Regions from separate parts of the Homo sapiens genome. Here region 2 is linked to region 1. The links come from fine-mapping of genetic effects on gene expression. Tissue or cell type: whole blood. Region 1 holds a variant in brackets; the other region holds the start of a gene. All regions are shown on one strand. Distances are between the middles of the regions. Region 1 overlaps ZDHHC20 (zDHHC palmitoyltransferase 20). Region 2 holds the start of ZDHHC20 (zDHHC palmitoyltransferase 20).

What was found. PIP is the estimated chance that this variant, and not a neighbour inherited with it, causes the effect.
Region 2: it holds the start of ZDHHC20, and the variant in region 1 is fine-mapped to the expression of ZDHHC20 in whole blood (INTERVAL, PIP above 0.99).

The regions. Positions count from the first base shown.
Region 1 is chr13:21,425,219-21,442,590 of GRCh38, forward strand. ZDHHC20 (zDHHC palmitoyltransferase 20) reads right to left here. Exons shown (of 13, transcript NM_001330059.2): 2 at 434-460. Among named protein-coding and RNA genes, the nearest start is that of ZDHHC20, 25 kb to the right of the region's middle. The variant G/A (reference allele first, on the strand shown) is at 7,251.
Region 2 is chr13:21,448,341-21,463,466 of GRCh38, forward strand. It overlaps ZDHHC20 (zDHHC palmitoyltransferase 20), which reads right to left and starts at 10,963. Exons shown (of 13, transcript NM_001330059.2): 1 at 10,714-10,963. The coding sequence starts at 10,831. It overlaps LOC124903131 (a long non-coding RNA gene), which reads left to right and starts at 11,207. Exons shown (of 2, transcript XR_007063713.1): 1 at 11,207-11,839; 2 at 12,043-12,306. RefSeq lists a silencer at 10,876-11,255, an enhancer at 11,119-11,288 and a cis regulatory region at 11,204.

The DNA of each region.
Region 1 (17,372 bases):
AAATATCTGTGCATTGTAAATTGCGATTTTAACAAATGCCTAAACGAGAACCATCAATAAAATTTAGACATCATGAAAGCAGAATTGTCTCCTCAACCTAGCTAGAACTCATATTAAAAAAATCTAAATAAAAAGTTTTGAAGAACATATGAGACAAATATTTATATAAATACACAAAGAAGTTTGAGTACTAGGTGTTGTACAAAATAATGTCTACTTTAATTTACATAAATAACACAAAATGAGAATACATGAAATGTCTTGGTCTGGAAATAACCCCATTACTAGATCTCCTTTTAATTACTTAAAATGTAAAGATAGGGATTTTATTTCTAAAAAACAAAAACACATGCATTCATCACTAAATAAAAAGTATGTTCCAATTAAAATATCATTAAGCATTTAACTTAAATTGAAACTAAAAGTGCCTTACCATTTTCTTCATTTCCAAAAATAGTAACTAGAATAGAAGAAAAAATAGTGAATAAATATACTTTAAACATTTTGTATGTAAGTTTTATTTCAGGTTGAATATTCATCTTAATATCATTTTCAAAAAAATAAACTTTAGTTATAAATTGTAGACACTAATGCAAAGTCAAAATTGCACTTAAAAAACTCCAAAACCATTAAAATACTAAAATCCAAATTCTTTATCATTAACGCTACAGTCACACTAAATGTTTTCAGAACTTTATTAATTTTAAGTGTATCAACATGTTTATAGCTGCAATGTTTTCTTTAGCTCTTTCCTTAATGATATCTGCAGAATGAACAGAACTGTCCTCTATGACCCCCATAACTTATTTGTTAGTCTGTGATGTACTCTTATCAACCTCTTTGTGAATCTATACTCAAGACAAATGTATTTTTCTAAAGAAAAAAGTAGAGGAACTTACCCTGCTAATTTTTAGTGTTTTTTTCCTCTGAATAATCAAATACTGAAGAAGTCAGACTACGCACAGAAAAGGTAATTCAGTGTCTACCTCTCTTATGTTTTCTTCCACCTTGTATTACTATTGTGATGAATAAAGCCAACAACCACTTCAGTCTACCAAGCCTGAAACCCTGTGAACTGCTATTTACTCTTTCTTCCTGGATAATTCAATGGCCTCGAGTCCTGTTGGTTCTACTATCTAAGTCTCTTTATAATATGTCACCTATTCTTCAGTCCCTCCCCACTGTCTTCCTCAAATGCAACAGCTTAAGGCATCTTCCTGCAGTCAGTGTAACACACCACCACCACTAGCAAATCTGATGAATACTCTTCAATACCTGTGAGTCACTTTCAGAATGAAGTCCAAAATCTTCAGGGTAGCAAACACTACAAGCCCTCTGTAATCTACAATCTGTCTACCTCTCTGGTTTCTTCCTTTTTTTCTCCTTTTCTTTTTTTTTTTTTTTTGAGACAGGGTCTAGCTCTGTTGCCCAGCCTGGAGTGCAGTGGCACAATCTTGGCTCACTGCAACCTCCACCTCCCAGGTTCAAGTGATTCTCCTGCCTCAGCTTCCCGAGTAGCTGGGATTACAGGTGAGTGCCACCACGCCTGGCTAATTTTTGTTATTTTTAGTAGAGATGGGTTTTCACCATGTTGGCCAGGCTGGTCTCGAACTCCTGACTTCAAGTGAATCCGCCCACCTCAGCCTCCCAAAGTGTTGGAATTACAGGCATGAGCCACCGCGCCAGGCCCTCTCTAGTTTCTTCTGTCATTTGCCCATATTTCTGGTGTAATTATTCTAAACAAATTGTGGTTTCCCAAATGCATCAAGCTGTTTCATATGTGCCATGTACCTTGTCTATTCACCCTTCAAGGCCCGTTTTGAATACTCCTCTGTAAAGTCTTCCTGAGTCCCTCTTTAGCCAGAGTAGATCACTCCTTTATATCACCACTGATCACTCTTCCATCTTTACCACACCATCTCATTTTTCTTTTTTTCTTTTTATTTTTTCAATTACTTGTCAATATGTCTGTCTCACCTTACTGGAATAAATGCTCCTTGAAGTGTGGAATCATGTCTTAGAATAGTAACAACCCTGCAAGTTATCATTAGCTCCATTTTACAGATAAGTAAACTAAGGCTCAAAATAATTAAATGACCTTCCTAAGGTCACAGAGCTAGTATATGTAGTATAGATGGGATTTGAACTAAAAGTCTGTTCAGACTACTGGTAAGGATGAAAACTTGATAATATACTGTGTTATCACCCTCCTCCAAGTAGAAAATCTGAATTTAAAATAACATCTAGCTAATAGTTTCCAGCGGTTGTCTCTTTCAGCTTCTCACCAAGATATTCAGGGAACAATAAAACTGCTTCATATAAAAACAAAGCTAGGCCGGGCACGGTGGCTCACGCCTGTAATCTCAGCACTTTGGGAGGCTGAGATGGGTGGATCACTTGAGGTCAGGAATTCGAGACCAGCCTGACCAACATGGTGAAACCCCGTCTGCACTAAAAAATGCAAAAATTAGCCAGGCATGGTGGCATGCACCTATAGTCCCACATACTCGGGAGGCTGAGGCAGGAGAATCACTTGAACCCAGGGGGCAGAGGTTGCAGTGAGCCAAGACTGCACCACTGCACTCCAGCCTGGACAACAGAACTAGACTCTGTTTCAAAAAAAAAAAAAAAAAAAAACCAAACCAACAATGGCTAGAATCACTTCTTCACAGAGGACTTTCCTGACCACAGAATGGGTTAAATAAATCTCGGTATATATTCCTACAACACTTTATACTTTCCCTTTCATAACACCCCTGACACTTGTAATTACTGGTTTACAGTTCATAGTTCCTCCTAGGTTTTTTTCCTGGAGGTAGAGGACATGACTTTTTCACCAGCATCTGAAACAGTGTACGGCATGGAACACACTCTTAATATTTGCTAATGGCACCTCTAACTACAGAGACAAAGACATGGCTGGGAACAGCAATCTGCAGAACCTCTCTCAGTGAGACGAGGCTATTCCTTTTTATGGGGATCCCAAAATATATTTTTCTTTTTTGTTTTGTTTTGTTTTTGAGACAGAGTTTTGTTCTGTCACCCAGGCTGGAGTAAAGTGGCGTGATCTTGGCTCACTGCAACCTCCACCCTCCAGGTTCAAGCAATTCTCCTGCCTCAACCTCCCGAGTAGCTGGGATTACAGGTGCACGCCACCATGCCTGGCTAATTTTTGTATTTTTAGTAGAGACGGGGTTTCACCATGTTGGCCAGAATGGTCTTGATCTCCTGACCTCGTGATCCACCTGCCTTGGACTCCTGAAGTGCTGGGATTACAGGCGTGAGCCACCGCACCCAGGCCCAAACTATGTTTTTTAAAAATTCTTTTGATGACAAAACCAAGCTTATAAAAACTATTAGGACTGGGCGTGGTGGCTCATGCCCGTAATCTCAGCACTTTGGGAGGCTGAGGCAGGTGGATCACGAGGTCAGGAGTTCAAGACCAGCCTGGCCAAGATGGTGAAACCCCATCTCTACTAAAAATACAAAAAATTAGCTGGGCATGGTGGCGTGCGCCTGTAGTCCCAGCTACTCAGGAGGATGAGGCAGGAGAATCGCCTGAACCTGGGAGGCGGTTGCAGTGAGGCAAGATCACACCACTGCACTCCAGCCTGGGTGAAAGAGTGACACTCTGCCTCAAAAACAAAACAAAATAAAACAAAACAAAAGAACAAAACAACAACAAAAAAACCCAACAACAACAAAAATTATTAGGCACACTAAATGTTTATACATTTTTTTATGTAAGAAATGTCATTTTTCAATCTTGTCAATGACACTAACCTCATTTAGAGACAACATTAATTTATGGTTCTTTGTGAACATGAGGGCTGGCTATGTCCTATTCTTCACTTCATTGCCCCCTTTTCTTGCCTGTCTCCCACTTATTGAGCCTGAAAATATCAGATACTCACTTTATCAGTATACTTGTATCTACTATGGCTATGGGATCCAGTTCTTGCAAATGGATACATCTTGAGGGAGGGAAAAACTGTCACTGGGAAAAAATTTTTTTGCCCTCCTTAACAAGTGAGAAGCACGTGAGAAAGAAGCTCTATTATTTCCTTTATCCTGTTTTTGCTTTGAATTCTTATAATGTGAGGATGTGCTATCTGAATGTACAACTGTCAACTTTCAACCTTGATGGGCCAGTTATATGCTGGATATAGAATTCTGGGTTGACAGTTCTTTTCATTCAGTACTTTAAATATGTACTACTTCCTTCTAAATTCCACGGTTTCTGATGACAAATCTGCTGTTATTCTGTTTTTCCCCTATAGGTAAAGTGTCCTCACTGTTTTCAAGATTTTATATTTAGTGGTCAGAAATTTGGTTATAATGTATGTTGGAGTGGATTTCTTTGGGATTTTCCTGTTCAGAGTTTGCTGAACTTCTTAAGTTCTTCTTGAATATGTCCTTCGCCAAGTTTGAAAATTTTAAGCTATCATTTCTTTGAATACCTTTTCAACCATATCGTCTTTCTTCTCCCCTGGGACTCTGATGGTACAAATATTAGAACTTTTAAAAATAGTCCCACAAGTCCCTGATGATTTGTTCATTTTTATTTTTCAGTATATTTTCTCTCTTTTGTTCAGATTGGGTAATTTCTAATGTTTTATCTTCAAGTTCATTCACTTCACTTTTTTTCTCTGCCCTCTCCATTCTGCTGTTCAGTTGACTTTTTAAAATTTTGGCTATTGTATTTTCAGTTTAAAAATCTCCATCTGGTTCTTTACATCTTCTATTTCTTTGTTGAGAATTCTATTTTTTCATAATTCAATAGCAAATTGAATCACTTTAAAGATAGCTGCATTAAAGTCCTTGTCAAGTAATTCCAACATCTGTGTCTTTTTGGTTTTAGTATCTATTCTCTTTTCTCATTTAGTTTTCCTGGTTCTTGGTAGGATGGATGGTTTTCAATTGTATCCTGAAATGTTTTAGTATTATGCTGAGACTCTAGATCTTATTTAAATTTGTTTTTGCAGGCCTCGTCTGACTCCGTGCAGTGAGAGATGTGGGAGCACCACCTTGTTGCCATCAGGTGGGAGTCCAAGTCCCAGCTCCCTGCTAGGCTTCTGCACACATATCTTGGCTGGGAAGGGTAGAGGTGCCTCCTTAGTGCTTCCCAGATAGCCTCCATTGACACCATGAGAGGGAACTTGTTACTGTTTGGGGTGGGGGGATGGAAGGGACACATCATTACTGCCCAGTGGGAATGAAAATCTAGGCTCCTGACTAGGGCTTCACCTTTTCTGATACTATCCCAGCAGGAATACTGGGGAAGAGACACAGGAGGGGGGTCTTGTTACAGCTGGGCAAGCAGGAGAGGTCTTAAGCTCAATACTCAGTCTTTGCTGGTGAGAGTGGGGGATGGAGCACAGTTTGTCTATTGTTTTTGGCTAGAGTAGGGCAGTTATTGTCTACAAGTTTTCTGTCTTACTAGGTTGTCCCTTTCCTGGCTTGACTAATAAAACTGGTCTTTTCTAGGGTTTGTTTTGGTCTGTATTCATTGGTGTTTCCAGGTTGACAGCTTCTCTAGCACATATATGAAGAAAAAAAAAATCTAGGGAACACACCACCATGTTATTCCTCAGGTCGCAAGGTCCCTAGCTGATCTGGCTTCTTCTTGATACCTTTCAGAGTCTCCTCAGGTTTGTTTTCTGCACACTTTCCATGGATTTTAGCTGTACTTACTAAGAAAAGGAAGAAGTCTCTATTTCATCTTGTCTCAGAACTGGAAGTCCCTGCTTGTCCTTTTACTGCCGAATAGCATTCTGTTATATGGAGGTATGACAACTTTATCCATTAATCAGTTCATAGGCATTTGAGTGATTTCACCTTTTTGTCTATTATGATTACTCGTGTATTCACCAAGCCTTTGGGTGGACATAATATTTTTGTATTAGTCCATTTTCACGCTGGTGATAAAGACATACCCAAGACTAGGAAGAAAAAGAGGTTTAATTGGACTCACAGTTCCACATGGCTGGGGAGGCCTCAGAATTATGGCTGGAGGCAAAAAGGCACTTTTTACACAGTGGAGGCAAGAGAAAATGAGGATGCAAAAGCAGAAACCCCTGATAAAACCATCAGATCTCTCTTGAGACTCATTCACTACCACGAGAACAGTATGGGGGAAACCACCCCCATGATTCAAATTATATCCCACTGGGTCCCTCCCACAACACAGGGGAAATTACAGGAGTACAACTGAAGATGAGATATGGATGGGGACACAGCCAAACAATATCAATTTTCATTACTTAATATCTAAAAATGGGATTGCTGGGTCTAATGTTAAATATGTGCTTAACTTTACCAGTAACAGCCAAACTGTTTTCAAAGTGGCTGTATTTGGCACAAAGTGTTTGGCACTTCCACTTACAATGGATCAGAGTTATAGTTGCTCCACATCCTCACCAATACTTAGAATTGACAGTTTTTAAAATTTAGCTGTTCTAAAAAATATGCAGTGGTATCTTCATTTCACTTTTGTGTTTTTCTAATAACTACAGCATCTTTTCATGTGTTTAACAATCACTATCCCTTATTTGTGAAGTTATATGTTCAATGGTGCCCCTCTTTTAACTGTATTGCTTATTGAGTCATGAGTTCTTCATATATTCTGGATACAAATCTTGATATGTGTGTGCCAATATTTTCTCCTAGGCCATAACTTGCCTCTTTATATTTTTAACAGTGTCTTTTGAAGAGCACAAACTCTTAATTTTGATGAAGTCTTAATTTAATTTATCAATTTTTTTCTTTTATCATTCATGCCTGGGAAATCTTTGCCAACCTATGAAAGTCACAGTTTCTCATATGTTTTCTTCTGGAAGTTTTATAGGTTTTATATTTAGGTCTGTAATATATTTCATTTTCATTTTATATCATTTCATATTTTTTATTATTTTTGAGACAGAGTCTTGCTCTCATTTTATTTCATATTTTATTTTATTATTTTTCAGACAGAATCTCGCTCTGTCGCCCAGGCTGGAGTGCAGTGGTGCGATTTCAGCTCACTAAAACCTCCGCTTCCTGGTTCAAGCCATTTTCCTGCCTCAGCCTCCCAAGTAGCTGGGACTAAAGGCATGCACCACAGTGTCCCACTAATTTTTTTTTTTTTTTTGAGACAGAGTCTCGCTCTGTAGCCCAGGCTGGTGTGCAGTGGCGTGATCTCGGCTCACTACAAGCTCTGCCTCCTGGGTTCACACCATTCTCCTGCCTCAGCCTCCTGAGTAGCTGGGACT[G/A]CAGGCGCCCACCACCATGCCTGACTAATTTTTTTTGTGTTTTTTAGTAGAGATGGGGTTTCACCATGTTAGCCAAGGTGGTCTGGATCTCCTGACCTCGTGATCCACCTGCCTCGGCCTCCCAAAGTGCTGGGATTACAGGCATGAGACATCTCTCCTGGACAACTTTTTTGTATTTTTAATAAAGATAGGGTTTCACCATGTTGGCCAGGCTTGTCTTGAACTCCTGACCTCAACTGATCCGCCTACCATGGCCTCCCAAAGTGCTGGGATTACAGGTGTGACCCACCATGCCCCCCCATGTAATCCATTTTAAAAAGTTGATACTTTGTATATGGTACAGGTAAAGGTTGAGGTTAATTTTTTTACATATGAATGGTGAATAGTTCTTACAGTGTTAGTTGAAATAACTATTTGTTCTTCATTAAATTAACCTGGAATTTTCTTATGGGAATCAACTGACTATACGTGTAAGGGTTTATTTCTGAACTCTATTTTGTTCCACTGGTCTATATGTCCATTCTTACTCAGATACTACAGTCTTGATTACATATAGCTTTCAGTAAATCTTGAAATCAGATAGTATGGGTCCTCCAACTTATTATTTTTCAAAAGTATTTTGGCTATTTTAGGTTTGCATTTCCATATAAATACTTACTTATTTTTACCTTTTTTAGAGACAGGATTTTGCTGTATTGCCCAGGCTTGTCTCAAACTCCTGGGCTCAAGCAGTCTGTCTGTCTCAGCCTCCCAAGTAGCTAGGACTATAGGCCTCCTGAGTAGCTAGACAGCTTGCATGCCATTGTGTCTGGCCCATGTAAATTTTAAACTCATCTTATTGATTTCCTTAAAAAAATACTCAAACAAGGCCAGGCATGGTGGCTCATGCCTGTAATCCCAGCACTTTGGGAGGCTGAGGCGGGCGGATCATGAGGTCAGGAGATCGAGACCATCCTGGCTAACACAGTAAAACTCCATCTCTACTAAAAATACAAAAAATTAGCCGGGCGTGGTGGCGGGTGCCTGTAGTCCCAGCTACTCAGGAGGGTGAGGTAGGAGAATGGCGTGAACCCAGAAGGCGGAGCTTGCAGTGAGCCGAGATCACTCCACTGCACTCCAGCCTGGGTGACAGAGCAAGACTCCATCTGGTGGGGGTGGGAGGCGGGAATTCACAAACAAAAATCTGCCTGGTTTTGTTTTTTGTTTGTTTGTTCTGGGAGATCCAGTGCTGGCTGATGCCTGGATTTTGACTGGCTGAACTTACAGATCAACTTGGGGAGAAGTAATGTCTTTGAAATATTGTCTTACAGCCCATGACCATGGCGTAGCTCTCCATTTTAGATTTTCTCTATCACACAGAATCTTGCACATATTTTATTAGACTTATCCCTAAAATATTTCATGTTTTTGATGCTATTATAAACAGCATTTCTAAAAATTCCAATTTTAATTACTCATTGCTATAGAATAGTATTTAGAAATATGTTTTAGTTTTTTTATTGACCTTGTATGCTGGCTCAATTCACTTTTCGGTTCTAGTAGCTTGTTTGCAGTTTCTTTGGGATTTTCTACATAAATGACTAGTCTGGTAATCAACAGGGTTTGTTTTCCTTTCCTACGTGTGTGTGTGTGTGTGTCTGTGTGTCTGTGTGTGTGCGTGCACACCATTTTAAAAGGAAGATTAAATACCTGATAAGTTGATACCGATATTTCCAATTAAAATTAAAGTCTACAGGGTTTTTACTTAACATCTTCTATCTCACATTTGTATCTCCTTTTTCCATTGAGAATTCTGGTTCTCAAGGACACAAGGGATGAAGAATTAGAATACCCCATATTGCTTACCCAATAATCTCGAGATAATGACAATAACACTGCCAGTAATATGATTACTTAAAAGTTTGAATAATTTTTTCATATATTCTCTCTCCATTCTCTAGTAGTTGTGCTGAATCAAAATTGTTAAAGCATATAGTATCCATTACAAACATTATTCCTCATTTAGTCTTAGTCTTGGGTCCACAAGAAAATAAATATTTAATGTTCATATTAGAGTTTAATTTGTATCTCTGCAGTCAATTTGGTTGTCTGAAGCTCATTGTCATTCTCTAGCAAACTAGTTTTGCTACAGATACTGTTCATGTTCTGTTTTTATGCAGTGATTTGGAGTGACTCAAAAATAATGTACTATTACCACCATCTTCCCTAAATCCATATGATGATGACTTTTTGAAAAGATCAGGCCAGATGTCTTGTGAAATGTCCTACAAATTCTAGAAATCGCTACCCATTAGCACACAGAGACATCCTTTTTTTTTTTTTAAAGCATTGCACAATATTCCGTTGTGTGGATATTCCAGTTATACAATCAGCCTTCTATTGATGGGCATCTGTGTTGTCGCCAATCCTTTGCCACTACAATGTTGCAATAAATAACCTTGTGCATGTGTTGTTTATTTGTGGAAGTTTATCTTCAGTGTAGATTCCTAACAGTGGGATTACTGAACCAAAAGTAAATCTGTCCACCATGTCTTTAGCTTTTTGCAAAAACCCTTTTATACGGGTTGTACCATTTTATACTTCTACCAGCAATGAATGAAACTGACTGTTTCTCTGCAGTCTACTCAATGAAGTTTTCAATCTTTTGGTATGGCAGGATAATTTTACCTCGTATTTATCTTATAAGTGAGGGTCAGTATCTTTTCTTATGCTTATGTGTCATTTTCATTTTTTTTTTCCTGTGAAACATCTGCTTACTTTTTTGTTTGTTTGTTTTTTCTATTGTGCTTGGTGATTCTGAGATGTTAGAGGCTTTCCTCATTGCCTTAAGATCATCCACCCATATTTTCTTCTAATGCTTGAATGTTTCCATTTTTTATATTCATTCTTGGTCCCTGTTGAAATGACCAATTCCAGGGGCAGGAAAAGTATCAAACAATGCTGAAATATATTGCCAGAAAGAAAGGAAGTACTAAAAAAACAATAAGGACACATCAAAGCACACAGAAACAAGATGGAAACTGGCTCCTACTGGCCAAATCTGGGACAAATTGAACAATAAAATACGTGTTAGATTATAATTCACAAAATAGAATTTGCCGGTGCATGCTGATATATGTGAGTGAATCAATAAATAAGTAAATGGGAGAAGGATAATCTCTTCCATACAGTAGAATTCTAACTAGTAAATGTAGAAGAAATCATGGAATTAGAAAACCACCATTTGGCAACCAGGACAGTAATAACTGTTTCAAGCAAGAATTCTCAATAGATGCTAAAAGGAGTAAGTGAAAGTAATAACAAACAGATTATTCACAGGGTTTCAAAATGTCTCCCAATAAGAAATGACTCAGGTTGGGTTCTCTGGAATCAGATGCTAAGACAGAGTTTGGGGTGCAATGTATTTACTAGGGACCAGCATATGTGAAAGGAAGGGGGAAGAGGTATAATTGGGCTAAGGGAGCAATCTCACTGCAATATAGTCCTGGCTTCAGCAACCGGCAGGGAGCTCTGAAGTGGGCAGTTCCACCCCATCTCACTCAGGCATTGTGTGCAAGCTGCACCAGGAAGGGTGTGACCTTGGGTGATATGAGTCATGCAGAAAGTGCTGGAAGCTATCTGCTGACTGCACTGACCAAAACTGAGCAACAAGTCCTTCCTCAAAAAGGAATCCGTGTGATGTGGTGGTCTAATAGAATATTAATTACAAAGAAAAACTGTACCTTTATAGAATGGAGAAACATAGCACACACTACCTTGGGTGTTGATCAACATTAATGGTCCCCAAAATGTTATAATGACACAGCATTACTTCTGTGACATTCTTGCTGAAAATACATATAGGCACATCTCATAAGGTGCTTTGATTTATTGTGCTTTGCAGACATTATGTTTTTTACAAATCGAAGGTTGTGGCAACCCTGCATTAAGCAAGTCTATCTGTGCTATTTTTCCAACACTTTGTGCTCACTTTGTGTCTCCGTGTCACATTTTGGTTAATTCTCACAGTATTTCAACCTTTTTCATTATCATAATATCTGCTCTGGTGCTCTGTGATCAGTGATCTGTGACGTTACTATTGTAATTGTTTTGGAGTACCACCAACTGCATCCATATACGATGGAAAACTTAATAAATGTGGTGTTTCTACCACTCCACTGACCAGACATTCCTCTATCTCTCTCCGTCTCCTTGGGCCTCCCTATTTCCGGAGACACAACAATACTGCAATCAAGCCAATTAATAATCCTACAATGGCCTCTAAGTGTTCAGGTGAAAGGAAGAGTCACACACCTGTCACTTTAGATCAACAGCTAGAAATGACTAAGCTTAGTGAGAAAGACATGTTAAAAACCAAGACAGGATAAACGCTAGGCCTCTTGGGCCAAAGTTAGCCAAGTTGTGAATGCCAAGGAAAAGTTCTTGAAGAAAATTAAAAGTACTACTCCAGTGGAGTGGCACTAACTTTGGCCCACGTTGTGTACGTGTACCCTAGAACTTAAAGTATAATAAAAAAAATTAATTTTAAAAAAAGTACTACTCCAGTGAATAGATGAATAAGAAAGTGCAATGAGGCTGATACAAAAAAAGTTTGAGTTTTCTAGACAGAGAGCCAAACCAGCCACAAACATTCCCTTAAGCCAAAGCCTAACTCAGAGCAAAGTCCTAACTCTCTTTAATTTTGTGAAGGCTGAGAGAGATGAGAAAGCTGCAGGAAAAAAGTCTTAAGCTAGCAGAAGTTGATTTATGAGGTTTAAGGAAATAAGCCATCTCCATAACACAAAAGTACAGGACGAAGCAGCAAGTTTTTATGTAAAAGCTGCAGCAAGTTATTCAGAAGATCTAGCTGAGATAATTGATGAAGGTAGCTATATTAGTCCATTTTCACACTGTGAAATTTGGGTGGGGACACAGAGCCACGCCATATCAGTGGCTACACTAAATAACAGATGCTCGCTGCAGATGAAACAGTCTTTTATTGGAAGAAGAGGTCACCTAGAACTTTCCTAGCCAGAGAGAGGAAGTCAATGTCCAGCTTCAAAGAATAGGGAGACTCTTCTCAGGAGCCAATGTAGCTGGGGACTTTAAGTTGAAGCCAATGCTCATTTACCGTTCCAAAAACCCTAGGGCTCTGAAGAATTATGCTAAATCCACTCTGCCTATGCTCTAGAAATGGAACAACAAAACCTGGGTGACAGCACATCTGTTTACAGTATGCTTTACTGAATTTTTTTTTTTTTTGAGATGGAGTCTCACACTGTCGCCCAGGCTGGAGTGCAGTGGCACAATCTCAGCTCACTGCCACCTCCACCTCCCGGGTTCACGCCATTCTCCTGCCTCAGCCTCCTAAGTAGGTAGGACTACAGGCGCCCGCCACCACGCCTGGCTAATTTTTTGTATTTTTAGTAGAGATGGGGTTTCACCATGTTAGCCAGGATGGTCTCGATCTCCTGACCTCGTGATCTGCCCGCCTCGGCCTCCCAAAATTCTGGGATTACAGGCGTGAGCCACCGCACCCAGCGGCTTTATTGAATATTTTAAGCCCACTGTTGAGACCTACTGCTCAGAAAAAAGATTCCTTTCAAAATATTACTGCTCATTGAAAATGCACTTTGAAACCCAAGGACTCTGATGGAGATGTACAAGGAGATTCATGTTGTTTTTATGCCTGCTAACACATCTATTCTGCAGCCCATGGATCAAGGAGTCATTTCAACTTTCAAGCCTTATTATTTATTTAAGAAATACATTTCATAAGGCTATCGATGCCACAGTGATTCCTCTGATGGATCTAGGCAAACTACATTGATCACCTTCTGGAAAGGATTCATCATTTCTAGATGCCATTAAGAACACTCGTTTTTCATGGGAGGAGGTCAAAATATCAACATTAACAGGACTACAGAAGAAGCTGATTCCAGTCCAAGATCATGGATGACACTAAACAGTTCAAGACTTCAGTGGAGGAAGGGACTGCAGATGTGGTGAAAACAGCAAGAGAAGTAGAATAAGAAACAGAGCCTGAAGATGTGATGGAATTGCTGCAACCTCATGATAAAACTTGAACAGACGAGGAGTTGCTTTGTATGGAAGAGAAAAGAAAATGGTTTTTTTGACATGGCATCTATACCTGGTGAAGATACTGTGAACACTGATGAAATGACAAAAACCATTTAGAATATTACATAAACTTAGTTGATAAAGTATCAGCAGGGTTTGAGAGGACTGATACCAATTTCTGAAAGAAGTTCTACTGTGAGTAAAATGCTGTCAAACAGCATCACATGCTACAGAAAAATATTGTGAAAGGAAGAGTCAACAGATGCGGCAAACTTCGTTCTTGTCGTTTTGAGAAATTGCCACAGCTACCCCAGCCTTCAGCAACAACCTCCCTGATCAGTCAGCAGCCATCATCATCGAGGCAAGACCTTTCACCAGCAAAAAGATCAAGACTTGCTGAAGGCTTAGGTGACTGCTAATTGCTAGCATTTTTTTAGCAAAAAGTATTTTTTAAAGACACAATGCTATTGCACACTTAACAGACTACAGTATAGGGTGAACGTAACTTTTATATGCAGTAGGAAACCAAAAACTTGTATGACTTGCTTTATTTTGATATTTGCTTTATTGTGGTGGTATGAAATCAAACCTGCAATTTTCCCACCAAGGTATGCCTGCAATTCTCTGAATCTAATCATGAGGAAAGATCAAATAAACCTAAATTGAGGAACATTTACAAAATAAACCTTGGCCGAGTGCAGTGGCTCACGCCTGTAATCCCAACACGTAAGGAGGCTGAGGCAAGAGGATCGCTTGAGCCCAGGAACTTGAGACCAGTTTGGGCAACATAGTGGGACCCTGTTTCTACAAAAATTTCAAATATTAGCCAGGCATGGTGGCATATGCCTGTGGTCTCAGCTACTAAAGAGGCTGAGGCAGGAGGATTGCCTGAGCCCAGGAGGTCTAGGCTGCAGTGAGCCACGAACACACCACTGCACTCCAGCCTGCACTCTGCACTGCAACAGAGTGATGACAGAGTGATACCCTGTCTCAAAACAAAACAAAACAAAGTAAAACAAACCTGTACTCTTAAAAAATCATGATTATGAAATAAAGACTGAAGAACTCTTCCAAATATAAGGACACTAAAGAGACATGACATCTGCAATGTGTGATCCTAGACTGAACTGTGGAGCAGAACAAGGAACTGAGTGGACAAATGAAGTCTGAATAGGCCTACAGATTAAAGAGTAGTATTTAATCAATACTAATTTATTGATTTTAATAACTGCACTCTGGTTATATAATATTCTAATTCCCAGGCGCGGTGGCTCATGCCTGTAATACCAGCAATATGGGAGGCTGAGGCAGGTGGATCACCTGAGGTCACAAGTTCAAGACCAGCCTGGCCAACATGGTGAAACCCCATCTCTACTAAAAATACAAAAATTAGCCAGGTTTGGTGGCATGCGCCTGTAATCCCAGCTACTCAACAGGCCGAGGCACAAGAATTGCTCAAACCCAGGAGGCAGAGGTTTCAGTGAGCCAAGATCGCGCCATGGCACTCCAGCCTGGGCGACAGAGTAAGACTGTTTCTCAGAAAAAAAAAAAAAAAAAAAAAAAAAAAAAAGACAATGTTCTTGTTCTTAGGAAATAAAGGTAAACATAGGTAAAGGGGCATTAGCTCTACAACTTACTCTCATACATTTCAGAGAGAGAATGAGTGAATGAATGAATGACAAAGCACATATGACAAATAGTAACACTTAGAAAATGTGGGTGAAGGTTATATGACTATTGTTTGTACTGTTTTTCAAAAGTCAAATTATTTTAAAATAAAAAGTTAAAAATTTAAGATACGGCAGGTGCAGTGGCTCAACACCTGTAATCCCAGCACTTTGGGAGGCCGAGGCGGGTGGATCACCTGAGGTCAGGAGTTTGAGACCAGCTTGGCCAACATGGTGAAACCCTGTCTCTACTAAAAATACAAAAATTAGCCAGGTATGGTGGCACACGCCTGTAGTTCCAGCTACTTGGGAGGCTGAGGCACAAGAATCACTTCAATCCGGGAGGCTGAGGTTGCAGTGAGCCGAGATCATGCCATTGCACTCCAGCCTGGGTGACAACAGCAAAACTCTGTCCAAAAACAAACAAACAAAAAGTGTGTGTGTGTGTGTGTGTATATATATATATGACAAAAGAAAGATTTTATCCATTTGTACTTTATACTAAAACATAGCATGAGGTATGGACCTGATTTTACTCTTAGAAAATATGTATCCAATTGTCCCATCTTTTCCTCTGTAATTTGATGTGCTATTTTTACAATATTCTAAATTTCTTTAATTAGTCTATTTCTGGACATTATATACTGTTCCATTAGTCAATACATCTGTCCATGCACCAGACCACACAGTTTAAAAAAAAAAGAGAGAGAGAGACTATTTTTTAGAGTAGTTTTAAGTTCACAGCAAAATTGGGCAGAAAGTAGAAAGTTCCTCATATACTTCCTGCCCCCACAGTTTTAATTATAAGGCTTTTTGGTTTAAAATCTGGGGGATTTCCCCTACTTATTGCTCTTAATTTTTCAGAGATTTCCTGATTGCTTATTCTTTCTTATTTTTCCATAAGACCTCTGGTATCCACTTGTCTAGCACCAGAAACAAAAAAATGTTTACTGGAATTAGAATTCATTTATACATTAATTGGGGGAGAACTGGCATCTTTGTAATGTTGAATTATTCTGTCTATGAACGTAAAGTATGAAATGTCTTTCCATTTGTTCAAGTCACATTTTGGGTCTTTTAAGAATGTTTTCCTCTTGTGAATGTGACATTTTTCTTGTTTTTTTTTCTAAGGTATTTTCTCTTTTTGATGTTACCAGATATGGATAGTTCTCTTCCACTCTATTTTCTTTTCTCTCTTTTTTTTTTTTGAGACGGAGTCTAGCACTGTCGCCCAGGCTGGAGTGCAGTGGCGCGATCTCCACTTACTGCAAGCTCCGCCTCCTGGGTTCACGCCATTCTCTTGACTCAGCCTCCCAAGTAGCTGGGACTACAGGCGCCCGCCACCACGCCCGGCTTTTTTTTTTTTTTTTTTTTTTTTTTTGTATTTTTAGTAGAGACAGGGTTTCACCGTGTTAGCCAGGATGGTCTTGATCTCCTGACCTCGTGATCCGCCCACCTCAGCCTCCCAAAGTGCTGGGATACAGGCATGAGCCACCACGCCCAGCCCTCTTCCACTATATTTTCAAACTAAATTATTGTATATATAAAAAGTATTGGGTTTTGTTGCTAATTTTTTTATTCTGCCGTTTTACTCAATTCTTTTTGTCTGGGTTTTCTGTTGTTATTCTCTTGGCTTTTCAACATACACTATCAGATAATCTGCACACAGAAATAGTTTTCCCTCTTCCAAAGTCTCATGCTCCTGATTATCTTCTCTTGAATGAATGTGGTAATTAATTCCGTCAATACAATGTTACCAAGTAATAGACATAGTAGGTATCATTATTCCTGGTTTTATAGTGGAATATTATCAAGTATTTTGTGTGTACATAAATTTTGTTTACGTTAGGTATCATAAATTTTGTTTACGTTGTTTACGTTATGTATCCCTATTTTATTGTTTATCAAGAATGGATGTGTTGGACTTTTCAAATTCCTTTTTGGTATATATGGAAATAATGATTTTTCTTACTAGATGCATTAAGATGGTGAATTATAATAATGAATCTCAGCCTAGCTTGTATATCTATCATTTTTTCCTCCAATCCTTTTACCTTTCCCTTTATCGTGATTTCAGGTTCTTGGCTTTTTCCATTTCTATCCTCTATGCCTTTACTGTATCTTCAATCACATCTGTTCACCTTTGGGCATCTTGTAGTTTAGTCTTCGTTTCTGATACTGTCTTATTTTCCATTTCTTTCCTGAGTTTGAACAGCTCTTATTTCAGATCTTCCTGCTCGCTGACTGTTTTTATTGAGTTTTAAAAACTTTTGACGTGGCCAGGCACGGTGACTCATGCCCGTAATCCCAGCACTTTGGGAGGCCAAGGCGGGTGGATCACTTGGGGTCAGGAGTTCAAGACCAGCCTGGCCAACATGGTGAAACCCTGTCTCTA
Region 2 (15,126 bases), 22 kb after region 1:
GCCAGCCGCCCCGTCCGGGAGGGAGGTGGGGGGTCAGCCCCCCGCCCGGCCAGCCGCCCCGTCCGGGAGGGAGGTGGGGGGGTCAGCCCCCCGCCCGGCCAGCCGCCCCGTCCGGGAAGGAGGTGGGGGGGGTCAGCCCCGCCGCCCGGCCAGCCGCCCCGTCCGGGAGGTGAGGGGCACCTCTGCCCGGCCGCCCCTACTGGGAAGTGAGGAGCCCCTCTGCCCGGCCAGCCGCCCCGTCCGGGAGGGAGGTGGGGGGGTCAGCCCCCTGCCCGGCCGGCCGCCCCGTCCGGGAGGTGAGGGGCGCCTCTGCCCGGCTGCCCCTACTGGGAAGTGAGGAGCCCCTTTGCCCGGCCACCACCCCGTCTGGGAGGTGTGCCCAACAGCTCATTGAGAACGGGCCAGGATGACAATGGTGGCTTTGTGGAATAGAAAGGCGGGAAAGGTGGGGAAAAGATTGAGAAATCGGATGGTTGCCGTGTCTGTGTAGAAAGAAGTAGACATGGGAGACTTTTCATTTTGTTCTGCACTAAGAAAAATTCTTCTGCCTTGGGATCCTGTTGATCTGTGACCTTACCCCCAACCCTGTGCTCTCTGAAACATGTGCTGTGTCCACTCAGGGTTAAATGGATTAAGGGCGGTGCAAGATGTGCTTTGTTAAACAGATGCTTGAAGGCAGCATGCTTGTTAAGAGTCATCACCAATCCCTGATCTCAAGTAATCAGGGACACAAACACTGCGGAAGGCCGCAGGGTCCTCTGCCTAGGAAAACCAGAGACCTTTGTTCACTTGTTTATCTGCTGACCTTCCCTCCACTATTGTCCCATGACCCTGCCAAATCCCCCTCTGTGAGAAACACCCAAGAATTATCAATAAAAAAATAAATTAAAAAAAATAAATAAATAAAAATAAACAACCACTGTTCATTATTTCCTGCAATTGTGTGGGCCAGCAGTTTGGGCTATGATCAGCTGGAATGTTTCTCTACTAATAGCAGTCATCAGGCAGCTCGAATGGGGTGGGAGTCTAAAATCGCCTTGTTCACACATTAGGGGTTCTGGCTTCTCTTGGCTGGGCCTCTTCTCCATGTGGTCTCTCACTCAGCAGTCTAGTCTGGACTCCTTACATGATGACGGGAATGTCCCAAAAGAGCTAAGGCAGAAGATGTCTTGAGGCCTAAGTTCCAGAACTCACATATCTACCACATTCTACTGGCCAAAGCAAGTACAAGGCCAGCCCAGATTCAATGGGCGGTAAACAGACTATTTCTTGATGGAAGAAGGTACAAATTATTATTATTATTATACTTTTTTTTTTTTTTGGAGACAGAGTCTCACTCTGTGGCCCAGGCTGGAGAGCAGTGACATGATCTCAGCTCACTGCAACCTCTGCCTCCAGGGTTCAAGCGATTCTCCTGCCTCAGCCTCCTGAGTACCTGGGATTACAGGTGTGTGCTAATTTTTGTATTTTTAGTAGAGATGGGGTTTTGCCACGTTGATGAAGCTGGTCTCGAACTCCTGACCTCAGGTGATCTGCCCACCTCGGCCTCCCAAAATGCTGGGATTACAGGCGTGAGCCACTGCACCCAGATGGTGCAAATTATTATAGTCATGTTTTTCAATCTATTACACTAAGCAGTGATCATGGTGGTTTAAAGGAGTGTAACAGTTGCAGTAGTAGTGGTGAGAAGCAGCTGGATTTTAGACATTTAATGACAGAACAAGCTGATTATCCAGATGGAGAATGACTTTTCAACCCAAGAAGTAGAAGGATACAGCTGTCATTTACTGAGCTATTAGGAGCAGCAGGTTCAAGGGAGAAAAAAAAAGAAAATCAAGAGTTTTGTCTACAATGCCTATTAGATCTCCAAGCAGAGATGTCAAGTAAACAGATTAGAGTCCGGAATTCAGCATACTACTACTTCTCTGCCGGAAAGGGAGCGGGCAGAGAAGCAGCCAGGCTTTTACTTGCATGACTAGGGCATAAGGTTCTTCTGAACAGTCTGACTTGGTTTCTAGGTTGTCCAGCATCTTTCTCTTCCACATTTCTTGTCTTTCAAGAAAGCAGGGAAGCCCCAGAGAAGGTTGAGTTTATGTGGGGAAATAAAACAGATCTTTTTTTTCATTTGATTTTAGGTGGGTTTTTAAATATATATATTTACAGAGCTCTCTCAGACCAGTATGCTATCTGGTAACACAGAAAATAATACCAGGACAGATTAACTCACTAGTAGTCATGAGAAAAAAAACTTTTTCTTCAAAAATAACAAAAAGTAAAAGAGAAGGCTAAGGTAACTGCAGAATTCAAATAAACAGGTCTTCTGGCCACTGTATCTTTCAAAGGCAAGTTATCTAGAAAATTACTACACTCTCGCATCTGAAAATAGATGCGAAATGATAAAATTAATAAAAAGGTGGTTTTTTTTTTTTTTGGAGACAGGGTCTCACTCTGTAACTCAGGCTGGAGTGCAGTGGTGTGATCATAGCTCACTGCAGCCTCGAAATCCTGGGCTCAAGTAATCCTCCTGCTTCAGCCTCCCAAGTAGCTGGGACTACAGGTGGGTACCACCATGCCTGGCTAATTTTTTATTTTATTTTTGTAAAGGGTATTGCTATGTTGCCCAAACTGCCCTTGAATTCCTGGCTTCAAGCAATCCTCCCACTTGGGCTTCCCAAAGTACTGAAATTATAGGCATGAATCACCATGCCTGGCCAAAAGTTTTTTGTTTTTAATTCTAATTCACATTTAACTTTTCCTATAAGTATGCCAACCACTGAGGATAAGATTTAGGGAAATAGGTTTTTTAAACCATGTCGGCATAATTTCAAAGAATCACTGTTTCATAACCCAAAACAAAGACTGTATGTAGGACCAATAAGCCATTTCACGTAGCCTTTACCACTAAAGATTGTGAAATACATGTTTTGTAACTATAATTAGTATTATTATTCTAGATGTTTGTGTGTCCTAACATTCAAACACGATTCAAGTGAGTTTACAAGAGTATGATTCAATTCAATTCAAGTTATATTAATTTAAAGTCTACTAGCACTAGGCTCTAATGGATACAAGAACAAACAGGACCCAATTATACTATAAGTCTTGTAAGCAGGATTATTCAGGTACATAAATAAATATAAGAAAGTGCATACTTTTAATTTATATTCTAATTCAATGTACAAATGATGTGAGGAGGCTTACTAGAAATATATTCCTAAATAAAACTGTGAATATGTTTTGAAAACAGAAAAATACAAATTAGGATGTGAAGTGAAGAGTAGGGGAGAAATACTGATACATAATACACAGATGAACCTCAAAAACATTATGCTATGCAAAATACACCTGACAAAAAAGACCACTTATTGGCCGGGCACGGTGGCTCAAACCTGAAACCCCAGCACTTTGGGAGGCTGAGGCAGGTGGATCACCTGAGGTCAGGAGTTCAAGACTAGCCTGGCCAACATGGTGAAACCCTGTCTCTACTAAAAATACAAAAAAAAATTAGCAGGGCATGGCGGCACACACCTGTAGTCCCAACTACTTGAGAGGCTGAGGCAGGAGAATCGTTTGAACTCAGGAGGCGGAGGTTGCAATGAGCCGAGATCACACTATTGCACTCCACCCTGGGCAACAAGAGTGAAGTTCCATCTCCAAAAAAAAAACAAAAAAACACTTATTGTATGATTCCATTTATTTTTTTCCCTTTTTAAATTTTTCTTGGTTTTTATGCTAATCTTCTCTGTACTCTTCCAATTTTAGTATATGTGTTGCAAGCATGTATTATTCCAGTTATATGGGATGTTCAGAAAAGGCATTTGGAGACAACATGGATTAGTGGTTGCCTTGGGCTGGGGGTGGGAAGAAGGATTAACTGTAAATGGGCATGAGGGATCTTAATGTGCGACAGAAATTTTCAAAAAACGGATTGTTGTGATGACTGCAAAACTTGGCAAATTTACTAAAAATAACTGCATTGTACATCTTAAATTAGTGAATTTTATGACATGCAAACTATGTCTCGATCAAGTTGTCTTTAAAAACTAAAGGCAAAATTAAAACTTTTACAAACATACAAAAACTGAAATGATTCAGTCCAGCTGACTTGCACTACAATAAACGTTAAAAGAGGCCCTTCAGGCAGAAGGAAATGACACTAGATGGATTTACAAAAAGGAATGAAGAGAACTAGAAATGGTAACTATAGGAATAAATACATATATTTTGGGTTTTTTAAACCTAAATCTTTAAAAACTATTAATATAATCAACTGTTTAAACATAGTAGCAATACAGTGTGAGGTTTACAACATATAAAATGCACCATAATAGCATAAAGGCCAAGATGGAAGAGATAGAAGTATACTTTTATAAGGTATTATATATGAAACAGTACGTAACTTGAAGGTAGACTGTGATAACTCAAAGACACATGTTATAAGCCCTAAAGCAATCAATAAAGTAACAAAAAGAATTACTAGTAATATGCCAATAAGGAGATAGAATCATTTTTAAAAATCAAAATTAAAAAAATTGTAAAGATCAATTAATTCAAAAGAAGGTCAAAGAAGGAGAAAATGGAACAAAGAAGAGGACAGACAATAAAACAAAAGAGCAAATGATAGACTTAAGCCTATATCAATAATCACATTAAATGTAGATGGTCAAAACCCCCTATTAAAAGGCAGAGATTTTCAGGTTGGATTTTAAAAGACCCAAATATATGCTCTTTACGAGAATTACAATTTAAATATAAGACACATACACATTAAAAGGACAGAGAAAGATACATCATGCTCACAATAATTAAAAGAAAGATTAGTGCCCATGTTAATATCTGCCAAAGCAGATTTCAGAGTAAACAATATCACCAGGGGTAATAAAGTCACTTCATAATGTTAAGTGAGCCAACTGGTCAATAGGATATTGCAATCCTAAATGTTTTATGCACCTAATTACACAGATGTAAAATACGAGGCAAAAACTGATAGAACTACAAGGAGAAATAAATCACAATTATAGTTATACCTCTCTTAATAACTGAGAGAACAAACAGGAAAGCAAGAAAATAGAGGACTTGAATAACACTACCAACTTGCCTTAACTGACATTTATGGAGCATTATGACATAACAGAATACTCCACCCAGCAACAAACAGCACAATACATTGCTGAGTACAGACATATTTTTCGTAAGCACACATGGAACACAGCTCAGACAGACCACATTCTGGGCTATAAAACAAGCCTGAATACATTTTAAAGGATTTAAGTCATACAAAGTATGTTCTCTGACCACAAGGAAATTTGAAATCAATAACAGAAAGATATCTGGAAAACCCCCAAATAAATGGAAACTAAATCCATGGGGTCAAAGATCAAACCAAAAGTGAAATTAGAAAATAATTTGAATTTTGAAGGGTGGAAGCTGCAGTGAGCCGAGATTGCGCCATTGCACTCCAGCCTGGGCAACAGAGCAAAACTGTCTTAAAACAAAACAAAATAAAAGGATTTGTTTGTTCTTTGGGAAAGGGTCTTGCTCTGTAACCCAGGCTGGAGTGCAATGGCACAATCATGGCTCAACGCAGCCTTGAACTCCTGGGCTCATGGTATTCTCCCGTCTCAGCCTCCTGAGTAGGCTGGACTTCAGACACAAGCCACCATGCCCATCTAATTTTTTGTATTTTTTGTAGAGATGGAGTTTTGGCAGGCATGGTGGCTCACACCCGTAATCCCAGCACTTTGGGAGGCCGAGGTGGGTGGATCGCTTGAGGTCAGGAGTTGAAGACCACCCTGGCCAACATGGCAAAACCCCATCTCTACTAAAAATACAAAAATTAGCCGGGCGTGGTGGCACATGCCTATAATCCCAGCTACTCAAGAGGCTGAGGCAGGAGAATTGCTTGAACCCAGGAGGAGGAGGTTGCAGTGAGCCAAGATCGCCACATTGCACTGAAGCTTGGGCAACAAAATGAGACTCCATCTCAAAACAAAAACAAAAACAAAAACAAACAAACAAAAAGATGAGGTTTCATCAAGCCTCCCAAAGTGCTGGTAGTACAGAGGTGAGCCACTGTGCCCAGCCCAAGAAAATAATTTGAATTGAATGACAACCACAACACAACATATCAAAATTGATAGAATAAAACTAAAGCAGTATTTGGAGGTAAATTTATAGGACTACCTACCTAAGAAAGGGCTCAAATCAATGACCTTGGTTTCCACATTAATCTAGAAAAAGAGCATATTAAACCCAAAGTAAAAGAAAGGAAATAGTAAAGATCAGACAGGAAAACAACAAAACAGAAAAGAGAAAAATCAATGAAATAGAAAACTGGTTCTTTCAATATCAATAAAATACTTCAGAATCAACAGTGTCAAGCTAGCATGTACAATGATAGTGCTTAAGTTATTTATCTTAATCTGCCTCTAAATTTGAAGAAGTTATGCAGGAGACACAAGTAAATATTTAATACAGACTCAAAGGTTAGAGTCCACTCCACAAATTTGTCTGAAAAAAATATAAAAGGTATACCTGTCCTTGAACAAACAACATAGCTCTTTTGTTTGTTTGTTTGTTGGTTTGTTGGTTCGTTTTTGAGACAGAGTCTCGCTCTGTCGCCCAGGCTGGAGTGCAGGGGTGCAATCTCTGCTCACTGCAAGCTCCGCCTCCCAGGTTCATGCCATTCTCCTGCCTCAGCCTCCCGAGTAGCTGGGACTACAGGCACCCGCCACCACACTCGGCTAATTTTTTGTATTTTTAGAGAGATGGGGTTTCACCGTGTTAGCCAGGATGGTTTCGATCTCCTGACCTCGTGATCCGCCTGCCTTGGCCTCCCAAAGCGCTGGGATTACAGGTGTGAGCCACCACGCCTGGCCAACATAGCTCTTTTGAGCAATAGTTTCATCAGAAGTAAAGGGACTGAATGAGATTATCTTTAAAATCTCTTTAAGTTCTAAGATTCTCTACATGCCAAAGAAGAGGTACACATCCACTAACAAGATGACCTGAACAACAAGATATTCTGATAAAACCTTGGGAACCAGAATTAGCACTTGCCTCAAAAATAACCACCTTGACCAAAGAGAAGAAGTTATTCAATCCATTCGTACTTTAAATATCAACCCTGGGGAAAAAAAATCATACGAGAATTTCAGTCTAATTTAAAATCAAGGACCAATATTACTAATTACTTAATCTTCGCTTCTCAGCTTATCACTCCTGTGAGATGGCCGTTTTACATGCATTACCCTCTTCCTCAATTTTGTCCTCAGTATTACTCCCAGTGAAGTGGTGTGTGTGTGTGTGTGTGTGTGTGTGTGTGTGTGTGTGTCTAATTACACAATTAGCAAGTTACAGAGGGTAAGATGGAATGAGGGCCTCTTGGTAATCAACAATTTGTTCAACTTACAGCCAACTGTGGGCCAGGTATTTTTATTGTCTGAGATATTTAGGAATCTTCTGCAGCTGCCTTTTAGGAGAAAAGTACTTTATATAAATATATCATATACAGGACTGAAATCTGCCCTGAGTGTCCAGATCTGGACACCAAATAGATTAGTCATTAATTGTATAGTGGTTAACAGCATGGGCTTTGGAGCCAAACCCCTTGAATTCCAATTCTTACCATGCTACTTACTGGCTCTATAACCGTGGACAAATTACTTAACCTTATGGGGATCATTATTAAGATTAAATGAATTAATACATACATGTAAAGATATAATTATGATCTTCTCCTCCTAGTTTGATAAAGAATACCAGAATCTAAGAATATCCTATAGGCCGGGCACAATGCCTCATGCCTGTAATCCCAGCACTTTGGGAGGCCAAGGTGGGTGGATTGCCTGAGGTCAGGAGTTTGAGACCAGCCTGACCAACAAGGTGAAACCCCCGTCTCTACTAAAAATACAAAAAAAATTAGCTGGGCATGGTGGCGGGCACCTGTAATCCCAGCTACTTGGGAGGCTGAGGCAGGAGAGTCACTTGAACCCAGGAGGCAGAGGTTGCAGTGAGCCAAGATCGCATCATTGCACTCCAGCCTGGGCAACAAGAGTGAAACTCTGGCTCAAAAAATACATATATAAATAAAAAGAATATCCTATAAAAGTATTAAAACAGCACTTTTAAGTAAAACTCACACTTCCCTCCATTTAAGTCCTCCTATAAAGTAATATATCTATACATATTTCAGTGGGAGGGTCAGTACTTATGAAAACAAATACATACAAGTAGTTTAAAGGATAGTTTTAATATGAGTAAATGCACTTTTATGCTCAACTATTTTATACTCCAGTGACACTGCAGACCTCCCAAATTCTCTCTAGTTAAAATGAGATAACTCAGAAGTTAATACAGCCTCTACATAAGACCTTTCACCACCAAATATTTTAAGATTCTGCCAAGCATCAGGCCATAGTTATAGAATGTTTTAACTTAATGAAATTGTAGGGTATAATCTCTACAGAATGGGCCTCAAGCCTAACTAAGTGATCTCCAAAAATATGCCAACCCCTTTATCCCCCCACACCATTATGGACCAAACAATTACAGTTCCATTGACCCTCATAGCTTACTGAAGTTATATGAAAGAACGGAAAGATGTGGGTCACATTCCAATAATCAATTGTGTGACCTAACCAAAAGGACCTATTCGCTCAGTCTCACGTCCTCCACCTGTAGAGATACCTATGCTGTGACATACTGAAAGAATTAAAGGAGAGGGTGAATGAAATGTCCCCTCTATGCCCACTAGCACATGGCACTTCTCAATTCATGTTCATTTCTCCTTCTTTATTTGAAGTGGTGAAAGAAATCAGAAGCAATTTAAGACTTTTCACAGCACTGTTTGATCTCATTTCTTAATATTTTTGACAAAAACCATCTACAGGTTAAGCTGTGGAATCTCAACATAAATGCACATTTTTAGTGTTCCTTCAGCTTTACTTCAAAACCACTACGGGAATTAAAATACGGTAGGAATAATCTTCTGACAGAATAGGAATGACATAACTTTTAGAATAAATGCCCACTTCAGAGTAAATAAGAAGATAAAGGAGGTATCATCATAAGTTGATGAGAATCCTATGATCACTACCACTTTCTGGAAGTAGCTCCCAGAAATATTAAAATCTAGTAATTTTAATTGACTCAAACATCATTTTTAGTAAACATTCTGGTATCCAAAAGCATGAGACTAAACAATGATATTGAAAAGATTAATATTATTTGGAAATGTATTCCACAACTAATTTATTCTGGGCCTACCTGCAGGGATAGTCGTCCCAAAATTAAACGTTCTATAGGTACAAAGTAATTTTAAAACTGGATGTTTTAATTTCAAAACTTATAAATTTTCTGAGCCAAAGCATTCTCTTCCATGTATAGAACTAGGGTTTTAACCAAATACTTGGTTGAAAGCTGTACAAATCCAAACATAATTGAAGTCTTGATTCTGCCACTTTCAAGAGTGGGTGGTACAGATTCTTCTCATTCATAACATTAGTTTCTAGCTGATGTGGTTCGTTATTCAAAGAACACTTAACAGTCCTTCATAAAATGGTAGATTCAGTCTAAGGACTAAGAGTAGAACATTCTGGAATAACAATAACGTTTACAAACACCACTTACCATTTGGTCCTAGGTTTTCATAAAAAATTGATATAGGCAGCAGATGTATACAGAACACCCTAGTTGAGGCCAGTTTAAGTGTAAAATACCCACATACTCAAAGCCTAAGAACAATTTACTTAAGACAAAACAATGTTGGAGAAATTGCCCAATATCACAAATGTAGCAGTCACCCCTAAACAGTGTTTTTGATTAATGACAACCAATTTCCTTCAATCTTAAAGGCAACCAATTCAAGCCAGTAGGTTAAATCCTTGAAGTATACTGCAATGCTACTCCTTTTTTCCAGGGAATCAGATGAGAATTTTGTGCTAAGAACTTATCAGGAAAATGGAAGTAACGAAAATTAACACGCCAAAATATGAGTATAAGAAATATAAGCCTCCTTAATAATCAGCCAAGAAAAAAATAATCAGGTTATGTCTCCTCCCACCCATTCTTTCTGTCTTAACCTTCTGCAAAAGCCGGCTGGATTCAGAGTAGAAATAAACGAATTTTACAATGAGTCGAGTACCACCAAAAATCAAAAGTGGGAGCTTACTCGTCCTCCAGGTCTGACCCGCCTCCAGCCCGAGGCCACCAAAAGACACACCTCCCTTCCCCCAACCCGCCACAGCCGGCTCTACAGGTAACAGGCGTTTCTTCTCGCGCAGTTTGAACAAAAACAATCCAGAAGGAACAGATTTGGTTTTTTAAAAAAAATGAACAAAAGCCAAAAAAGCCACAAACACAACCTAAACCTTCTAAGAAGCTCGACTACTCCCGTTCTGCACGTTCCTTCCCAGAAGGATGCAGACCCCCGGTGTCGGCGGGAACCAGGAAGCTCTTGGGGCCTCCCTGGGCCAGACCTGCACCCGGGAAGCCGCCGCAAGGCTTCAGGAGCCCCAGGTCGCCCCAAGGCCGCGCCGCAGGATTGAACAAAGCGGCGGGTGCAGCAACCTCGGCGCTTCCGAGCGCGTTCGGGGCCGGACGCCCGGCGTCCGGCGCTGGCTCCAGAAAGGCGGCGGGTGTGGGGCGCAGAGGCCTATCTCGCGCCCTAGCCGCGGCCCGCGCCCCGCCGCAGTCCCCGGGGACGGTACTCACACACGCAGAGCTCCACCACGTACGCGTAGTAGGACCAGACGACCACGAAGGTGATGAAGAGCACCGGCACCCAGCCCACGACGCGCTGGCAGCAGCGCCACAGCGTCCAGGGCGCCATGTTCCGCTGGCGGCTGCCGAGCCCCGCGTCCCACCGTTCTGGGGAGCGCGGGAGCCCCGGCGACGGTGACTCGGACGCTCCAGGCGGCTGCTGGTCCAGCTCCCCCGCCTCCGAGGCAGGACTTGTGGGAGCAAAAGTCCGAGGCGCCGCCGGGACTCCTCCCGTCCCGGCGCCCAGCCAGGCCCCGCCCCCACCCCACATCCCGTCGCCCCCCTCCCCCCGCGTCCGTCCCCGCCAGCCCGCCCGCCGCGGGCCGCGGGCCGCCCCCGGTCTCCGCGTCGTTGGGGCGGGGTTTCCGCGGCCGGGGAGGCGGTGAGGGGGCGGGGCCGCAGCTCGGGACCGCCCATGGGGCGTGGCGGGGCTGGATGCGGACAGGCTGGGCGGACGCGGGAGGCCGGGGAAGGAGAGGCGAAAAACACGCCCTTGATGGATGAGAGGGACAGGGGATAGCTTTTGTGGATCGAGACTCAATAGGGGAGGGAGACTATGGAAATGATTCCTTAGCTGATTTGTGGATCTTGGCCCTCTCTGTGTACAGAACTCGCTCCACTGGGGTTCCTGGGACATTGAGTAGTTGGGGCACTGTTTCAAACATGACAAGGCCATTCCCCACTCAGTGTGCGAAGAATGCACATTGTTAGAAGGCTCCTCCTGTGATTTTTATGTTCGTCCATCTTGGCGGAACCCCTCCCTTTCTTGAAGATGGAACGGTAGATACCTGTAATTTCGGGTAGAAGCCATGTAGGGTCCATCAGTTTGATTCGTAACCCAAATTTAAGATTGAGTAGCGAGAAGGAAAGGGCATGTAAATGACCCTCTCCTTGCCCCGCAAACGACTAAGGAAATTTAAAGAATTTATTTACAACTAGAGGTTGCTAAGCAATGACGATAATCATATAGAACCCAGAAGCATCACTGTGAAGACTTCACAATGCAAGGTCAGACGCATTAGAAGGGATTCCAGACCGCAATCTTCATACCAGTTCCTGCTACTAGCATTCAGTTTTGGTTAGAATGAATTTTTGTGTTTGTTTTTTGAAACAGGGTCTTCTCGCTCTGTCGCCCAAGCTGGAGTGCAGTGGCACGACCTGGGCTCATTTAAGCCTCGACCTCCCTGCTAAAGCACTCCTCCTGCTTCAGCCTGCAGAGTAGCAGGGACTACAGGCCCGCCACCATGCCCAGCTGATGTTTGTATTTTCTGTAAAAACTAGGTTTCGCCCTGTTGCCATGCTGGCCCTGAACTCCAAGGCTCAAGGAATCCCAACCCCTCTCCGCCTCCACCTCCCAAAGAAGTGCTGAGATTACAGGTGTGAGCCACCACGACCGGCCTACACTGAGCTTTAAATTAGCTACTGCTCACTAAAGTCTCCATGAAGAAGACGTCACCCTTTGCTGTGTCAGAGAAATGTAGTAAAAGCGAGTAAGTATTTAATCACTGCACACTGCTGCTTGAGTAATAAAGCATGTATAAAAGATTCTGTTCTCCCTGATTTTGTGCCTTAAAAGTCATATTAGTTAGTGGCCTAGTTGACAGTAGGTTTAGGTTCAAGTTCAACTAGTTTTCCAGAGAGGCTGCTTAGGAGGGTTAGACCTCAACATAGAATTCGGATGGACATGGAAGAACATAAAGCCGTTTCTCCTCTATGTCATCTCTACGTACCAAAACCATGCTGCTAGAGCTCAGCACAAAGCCATGTCCTTTACAAGCTCCAGGGCTGCTAGAAATGATCTTTCACGACATTTTGTTTATAACCTAACTATAAAACTGTCACATTCGTTTCCTAGGGTGACTATAACAAAGTACCACAAAACTGGGGAATAATAGAAATTGGTTGTCTCACAGTTTAGGAGGGTAGGTGTCCCAAATCAAAGTGTTGGCAAGGATATTGGATATGGTTTGGATGTTTGTCCCCTCCAAATCCCATGTTGAAATGTGATCCCAGTGTTGGAGGTGGGACCTGGTGGGAGGTATTGGATCATTAGGGTGGATCCCTCATGAATGGTTTAGTGCCATCCCCTTGGATGAGGGGTTCTTTCTCTAGTAGTTCACATGAGATCTGGTTATTTAAAAGAGCCTGATCCTTCCCCCACTCTCTCTCTTGCCCCCTCTCTTGCCATGTGACATGCTGGCTCCCCTTTGCCTTCTGCCGAGAAGGCAGAAGTCTATCTCTGTGGTCCTGTGTCTTCAGAGATAAGGATGTTCCTTTGTCTGGGTAGAGGGAGGGCACCTCTTGAATAACAGTCTTAGGTCTGCCTTCAGGGGAAGGCCTGAGACGCTTTTGCTAGTGCTATGGCCTGCTTCAGGGGAGAAGAGCGAGAGGAAGGTGAGAGGGACCTTCCTGTTGCTGTTGTCTCCAATGTTGTCTCCAACTGATGATTGGAAGCTTCTTGAGGCCTCACCAGAAGCATATGCTGACCCCATACTTTCTGTACAGCCTGGAGAGCTGTGGGCCAATTAATCCACTTTTCTTTATAAATTACCCAGTCTCAGGTATTCCTTTATATCAGTGCAAGAATGACCTAACACAGCCATGTGCCCTCTGAAACTTGTAGGGGAGAATTCTTCTTTGCTTCTTCCTAGCCTTTGGTGGTGACCATTAGTCCATGGCATCCCTTGACCTGCAGTGGCAGTGGCATCACCCCAATATCTACCGCTATCCTCAGGTGGCATTCTCCTTTCCTGTCTCTCCCCTTATATTGGGTTAAGGGCCTACCCTACTCTAGTATGGCCTCATCTTAACTAATTACATCTACAACAGGCCCACTTCCAAATAAGGCCACATTCTTTTTTTTTTTTTTTTCAGTAGAGTCTTGCTCTGTCACCCAGGTTGGAGTGCGGTCACGTGATCTTGGCTCACTGCAACCTCCACCTCCCAGCTTCAAGTGATTCTCATGCCTCAGCCTCCCGAGTAGCTGGGATTACAGGCGTGCACCACCACGTGAGGCCTGCATTTTGTATTTTTGCTAGAGATGGGGTTTCCCCATGTTGGCCAGGCTGGTCTCAAACTTTTGGAGTCAAGTGATTTGCCTGCCTCGGCCTTCCAAAGTGCTGGGATTACAGGCCTAAGCCACCTCGCTCAGCCAATAGTTTTGATACTCATTGAAATATGTGATCTTGCCTACTACCTTGTAAGGTTCTAGAAGGTAGAAAGTATTTCTTGCACATCCACAGTGACTTGCAGTAGGAAATATTTAGTAAGAAATTGTTGAACAAATATTTAAAGTTTTCTATTGTTATCCAGTTACTCCTCCTAACTTCTGGCGTTGCCAACCAGATTACATTAGCTTGTGATTTCTTTTTTTTCTTTTTCTTTTTTTTTTTTTTGAGACAGAGTCTTGCTGTGTTGCCAGGCTGGAGTGCAGTGGTGCAATCTCAGCTCCCTGCAACCTCCGACTCCCTGGTTCAAGCGATTCTCCTGCCTCAGCCTCCCCAGTAGCTGGGATTACAGGCACACACAACCACGCCCAGCTAATTTTTTGTATTTTTTGTGAGCCACCGTGCCCGACCAGTTTCTGATTTCTAAATGACTGCCACATATTCTAAGGTGATTTATGTGGGATCTAGAGAATATTTCTGATCTATGTCCTTGTACAATGAGGACAGACACATTTTTGAGGAGGCAATATTTTTATTATTTTGGACTCTTTCTGTCGTAAATGGTTACAGACATGAATTAATGTTCTTTGCTTGTGAGCAATAGAAGCCAGTATCTTAAACCCCTTCCTTCCATTTCCATGTTGGGCTTGTGATTTCACTCCATCTTTGCTACTGGTTTTGACAACAGGGAATCATTTAAAGACTTTAGGCAGTGTAGTGACGTGAGCAGAATTACATTTTATAACAATCACTCTGGCTGTGGTAAGAAGAACAGATTGGAGGGAGGAAAGTCTAGAGGCAAGGAAACCAGTTGGGAGGCCGTTGCAGTCGTAGAGCAAGAGATGATGCTAGCCTGACCTTGATTTGTGGCAGTGGAGAAGGTAATAAGAAAGCTACTTAGGGCTGGGTGCGATGGCTCACGCCTGTGGGCCCAGCACTTTGGGAGGCCACAGTGGGCAGATCACCAGGTCAGGAATTTGAGACCAGCCTGTCCAACATGGTAAAACCCCATCTCTACTAAAAATACAAAAAAAAAAAAAAAAAATTAGCTGGGCATGGTGGCGGGGCGCCTGTAATCCCAGCTGCTCCGTAGGCTGAGGCAGGAGAATTGCTTGAGCCTGGGAGGTGGAAGTTGCAGTGAGCTGGGATCACGCCATTGCACTCCAACCTGGGCAACAGAGCAAGACTCTCTCCAAAA